2 separate regions of the Homo sapiens genome follow, and region 1 is linked to region 2. Evidence: fine-mapped expression QTL. A gene starts in region 2. The other region holds a variant in brackets. All regions are shown on one strand. Distances are from middle to middle.

Region 1 (3,029 bases), 33 kb after region 2:
CTTGTTGACATTTTAAATGCCTTAGCTTATGTTTGCTCTAATGAAACACAAGATGAACATACACTTTGGGACAAAATGTACTGCTGTGCTAACATTTGTTTTACTGTGGCCATCAGCACCAGCAGATGGCAGGTACACTGAGACAGCTAACACAGTCTTTGTTCATTTTAACTGCTTTGGGCAACTTCATGGTTAAATTACTCTGACTTCATGATTCTCAAACTTGAGTGTACATCAGAATCACCTAGAGGACTTTTTAAAACATAGATTGCTGGGCTCCATTCTCAGTTTCTGGTTCAGTTGGTCTGAGTTGGAGCTTGATAATTTGCCTTTTAACAAGTTCCCAGAGGTTGCTGAGGCTGCTGGTCCATGGACCACACTTTGAGAACCACTGCTACAAGTCATCTTAAGTCTTATCCTAAAAGAAAATTCTATATGGGGAGATAGGCTCTTATAAGTATACTTTACTGATATGGACAGCTCCAAATCAAAGAAGGATAAGTGTGATTTTTATAAACATTAAATAATTCAGGCCTCAAATATTCTCTCTGAATGAGAAGAAGGTTTGTCAGCAACATAGAACAAAGTACTAAGTCTTTTGCCATAAAATGGGCTTTGTAGATCCCAGCTTCTGAACTCACTAGCTATTTAAGTTTGGGTTTGTTAATCACTGAGCCTCATTTTCCTTATCTATAAAATAGGGATAATTTCCTTATCTGTAAAATGGGGATACCACTGATCTCTTAGGATTATTGTGAGGATAATGAGACATGATGCCCGGAAAGGGCTTAAATAGTGCTTGGTATACCAGGAAGTGCTCTGTAAATGTCCAAGTTTATTTGAAACAAACATTGAGCAGCTATAATCTCTGTACCATGTCCTGTGATGGAAATGAGAGATTAAGAGATAAACCCCACAGGGGTTCTGGTCTTTAAGGAGGTCAAAGTCTAATGCAAGAGATTGTACCCATAAATAAGAAATTGTACTGTAAAGTGTGGGTGAGTGCTGCAATGCAGGGACAGGCATCCCCTGGGTGCTGGGGTGGAGGTAAGGGATGTTTCAGGCACAGGCAAGCTTCCACTCTCCACATTATCTGTGGGATCAAGTCATCACACAAGCATCATTCACTTTAACCAGGCTGCTGCAAATGCCTCTTTTTCATTCCGCCTCTTTCTCTTGCAGTGACTGTGGAAGAGGGCTCCCTGTCTCCAGAGAGGTAAGTACATGCTCCTTAGTTGTGTAGGAACGTAGCCCACCACAGAGGCTACTTAGACTGCTCCAGAGCAGGCAATTAGCACAAACCAAGAATCTGTATTTCTCAGAAGGGTTTCAGAAGCAGTGAACTTATAAGCAACAAAGTGTAACTTTTGTTGTAAAGAAAAGATTAAATAAATTGCATTTAACACGTACTGATGTTAAGTTGCAAAGATAGTCCTCAGAGGTCCTTTTTTTATTACACACTTGGGTTCAGTAAATTGAAACATCACCCTTCATAGTCATAAATTGAATTAGAGGCTAAAGAATGCTCTGGGCAGCTGGTGTGATGTTAGGAATTGGTAATAGGATAAA[G/A]GATGTTCTATTTTTGGTGTACTCCTTCTAAGAATTTTGCCACAGAAGTGTCAGTTCATTTAACTCACTTAACCAAATAATATCTATTGAGACCTTTGATGTGTCAGGCACTCAACTGGCTACTTTATACAGATTTCTCATTCTGTTCTCTCAAGAGGGCTGCACAGTTGCTGCTGCCGCTCACATTTTACAGCTCAAGATACTTGGGCTCAGAAAGTTTGCCACTTGCTGAGCCATGATTCCAACCCAGATGTGCCATAACTACACTGATTATATACCTCACCTCCCACACAAAGATGTTCCTGTTCTCAAAAAGGTTAGTCTCAGAAGGAGATCCAAACTTAACAATAAATAATCATATTACTTATTCCTTTATCAAATGTTTACAATGGTAAAGTGTGTTAAGTTTTGTAATAGAGGAAAGGACAAGATTCAGAGGCTGCACTAAGGAGGAAGTTGTTACATCTTCTTGGGAGGGTCAAGGAAGTCTTTAAAGAAGTATCAGTTCTCCATTGCTAGAGTAATGCTACATAATAACCAAAAAACTTTCATAGCATACATGAGTCTGTGGAGTACAGCTGATCTGGGCTGGGGTCAGCTGGGTTTGCTCATATGTTTGCAGTAGACTGCAGGCTATCTAGGCAACTTTGCAATATTGGCTGGGGTGGCTCACATGTTGAGGGGAAGCTTAACAGTTGGCTGATCTAGGATTGTGTTGGCTGGGATGGTGGGCACCTTGACTTGGCACCATCTGTCTCTCCTCATCCAGCAAGCTAGCCCAGGGGCACTCTCCTACAGTCGCTGCTAACAAGCAAGACAAGCCCAATCACACCAGTACTTTTCAAGCCTTTACTGTGTTGCAGTTGCTGACATCTTATTGGTCCAAGCAAGTAATATGGCCAAGCCCAGAAGCAGAGTGGGAGGGTGCTGAAAGTTTCATGGCAAAAAGCAGGGATGCAGGAAGGAGTGAAGAATGGGGTATTGATCCAGTCAACCTATCCCCGAAGAGGAAACATTTGAAATGAGTACTGAAGATGCACATTTGCAGCACAGCATGGGAAGGGACACTCTAGGTAGAGGCAGGAGGTGTGAAGCAACATGTTTAATTTGTGGAAACTAGAAATAAGTACACTTAGAGTGTAGAAAGTATAGAAATGGTATAGAAACGGGATTATAGAGGTAAACAGGAACCACATCACAGAGGATCTTGTACAACAGGGAATTGATAAGACAATCTTATTCAACAAGGAACTGGTAGTGTGGTGTTAGACGCAATTCATGTGCTCTGGGAACTCCTGGGTTAGTCATCCCTTTGAAAGAGTTAAATGACAGCACAAGACAGGTCAGTGGAGACGTGTTCTATGCGTATTTATGTGAAAGAGAGAGAATAATCTAACTGGCTCAGGCAATGGTTTGCACCGTTTACTCAATGAACATAGGTCCCAGTATGACAGTGTGAA
Region 2 (2,500 bases):
ATGTGTATGTGTGTTGAGGAAGGATGTAAAAGGTACATCTTACTGTGAGTCATTCATTAATAAAGTTTAAAATACATAGACCTCAAAGGCTTTTATAAAACCCAAACTGCCAGTCCCTGGGCCAGAAGCATTGATGCAGTGTTTTGTCTGGGACTTGAATCCTGTATTTTTGATAGATTCCCAGGCAGCTCTGGTGATCAGCCAGGTTTGGGAATCACCTGTTAGAGGAAATGGCCCTCAGGCGGGGTCTCCTCACCTGTGCTCCACCCCGCCTCTCCCTGGTCAGGACAGGAGAAGATTTCTAAGAACTTGACAAAGCAAGAAAAGTCACACCGGTTACACATAAAGCAGGGCGCAGGCCACCCACTCTGCCCATCCCCAACCCCGGGAGAGCTGAAAGCCCCAAAACTGGCAACTGAGGTTTGGGTTTCCATCTCCAGCTCTGTCAGAAAAACAAACAAACAAAAATAACCCCAGCAAAATAAAATCACTTTAGAGTCAGCCAGATCTGGGTTCCAACCCTGGCTCTTCTAGTTACTACCTATGTGACCATGGGCAGGTGTTACCATCTCTCTGAGACTCAGTTTCCTCACTTTTTTTTTTTTTTTTGAGACGGAGTCTCACTCTGTCCCCCTGGAGTGCAGTGGCATGATCTCGGCTCACTGCAACGTCTGCCTCCCAGGTACAAGCAATTCTCCTGCCTCAGCCTCCCAAGTAGCTGGGATTACAGGCACCCACTACCACACCTGGCTAATTTTTTTTATATTTTTGGTAGAGACAGGGTTTCACCATGTTGGCCACGCTGGTCTCAAACTCCTGACCTCAAGTGATCCACACACCTCGACCTCCCAAAGTGCTGGGATTGCAGGTGTGAGCCACTGCACCCGGCCATTCTTCACCTTTTAAAATGGGAATCCAAATGCCTCAATAAACACCAGGCCAAAAACAGGGTGCTCCTTTATGTTAACTCCTTTTCTGGCCTCCACTAAATCCCCCTGTGGGCTTAGGCATGCTGTCCTGCTGGGCTTTGGTTTCCCTGACCGTGAGAAAGGGTTTGTGAAATTAAGTAGCCGTCTGCAGGGGCGGAGCTGGCAGAGGTTGTTACTAACGGGGATCACACTGTCCAGCCTGCATGGTCTGTACTAACAGGAGCCTGCCATCCCCATTCCTTCACAGCTCCTGCTGCCTGGGCACAAATGCCCTGGAGAGTGAGTGACTGTCAGACCAGCCGGAGGGGAGCAACGGGAAGAGCCGCTTGCTGAGAAGAGGTGGGCTTGGCAGGACTGCAGGTGGAGTACTCTCCCCAGTCCCCTGCAGGTGCTGGTCTAAGCCAAGCTGGGAGGATGGCGGCCGGCCCTGGCCCAGCCCCAGGCAAGGGAGGAGCCTCGGCCCAGATGGGGCAGGTGGGGAGCCTGGGCTCAGGTGTGTCCTGTGGGAAGTGATTGCTCCCTGGCTAGCAGAGACAGAGGAAAGCGGATTGTTGGCCCCAGGACCCAGCTCTGAGAGGCTGGGCTTGTTTCCCTGACTCTGCCTTGGAGGAAAGCAATGGAAGGGGTAAGGCTGTCTCAGTTTTGTTGCTGGCTTTCTGTGTGTCTTTTCTTGCAGGACAAGTTCCTCCCACTTGAGAGCCCTGGGGAAAAACTGCTTGTGTGTGCTGCCTCCTGGGCAGGAATAAACATGTCAGGTGTCAGCCAGTGCATTTCTGCTCACACTGGCTTTGCTCAGGGCGGGTGGGAGGGAAGAGGAGTGTGCCATGTCCTGTGCCACCTGGAGTGTGAGGGGACAGGAGGTGCTGAGGAATGACAGCATGTGGCCTAGCTCTACCCAGCCAGCTGGACTCCTGACCTATTCCCAGATCCTCCGTTGAAGCGCCCGCTGGCTTCTCTCTGTGTTTACTTGCCCTTGTGGACTGTATCTGGCCTCTGCAGTGATTAGCGGGCCTCCTGGTCAGAGAGCAGTGCTTGGTGCTAGGAAGCCGGCTGTGCATTGCTCTTTTGTGGCTTGTGGCTCTAGACCGGGTTCTGCTCCTTGTTAACTGTGTGGCCTGGGGCAAGTGTGTCCGTCATCCTGAGCCCTGGGTCCCTCACTCATGAAAGAGAATTACTGGTACAATAACTACTTTGTGAGACTATCAGAGGTGCTTGTATAAATAGAGATGTATGGAAAAGTATCCTGCCCTACGCCAGCATTCCCTGCCCCTTGGATGGCTGAGTGCTGTTGGCACAGTTGGAGACGTCTTGCCTGACTGACCACATCTTCCTTTTTCCTTCTCCAATTCTCCACTCTCCTCTATTTCCGTCTTCAGTAAGTCAGTTTCTTTTGATGTGCGTGTGCATGTGTGTGTGTGTGTGTGTGTGTGTGTGTGTGTGTGTGTGTGTGTTGCTTCCATACTTTTTATTATATATTTGGAGTCAAGTCATTTTCTCCCATGAATCATGTGGCTTCTCACCCACAAGTTTGGTTTTAAATCAGGGCAGAGGATCCATTTTAGCTTTTGCTG

Direction of the effects. Alleles are on the strand shown, and positions count from the first base shown. SD is a standard deviation of normalised expression in the study named.
For the expression in skeletal muscle of the gene that starts at base 1,432 in region 2, allele A in region 1 goes with a higher level than allele G (small effect, 0.23 SD a copy in GTEx).

Evidence for each region. PIP is the estimated chance that this variant, and not a neighbour inherited with it, causes the effect.
Region 1: its variant is fine-mapped to the expression of FYB2 in skeletal muscle (GTEx, PIP above 0.99).

What each region holds. Positions count from the first base shown.
Region 1 is chr1:56,785,362-56,788,390 of GRCh38, reverse strand. FYB2 (FYN binding protein 2) reads left to right here. Exons shown (of 20, transcript NM_001004303.5): 4 at 1,183-1,216. Among named protein-coding and RNA genes, the nearest start is that of FYB2, 33 kb to the left of the region's middle. The variant G/A (reference allele first, on the strand shown) is at 1,570.
Region 2 is chr1:56,818,336-56,820,835 of GRCh38, reverse strand. FYB2 (FYN binding protein 2) reads left to right here and starts at 1,432. Exons shown (of 20, transcript NM_001004303.5): 1 at 1,432-1,554. The coding sequence starts at 1,546.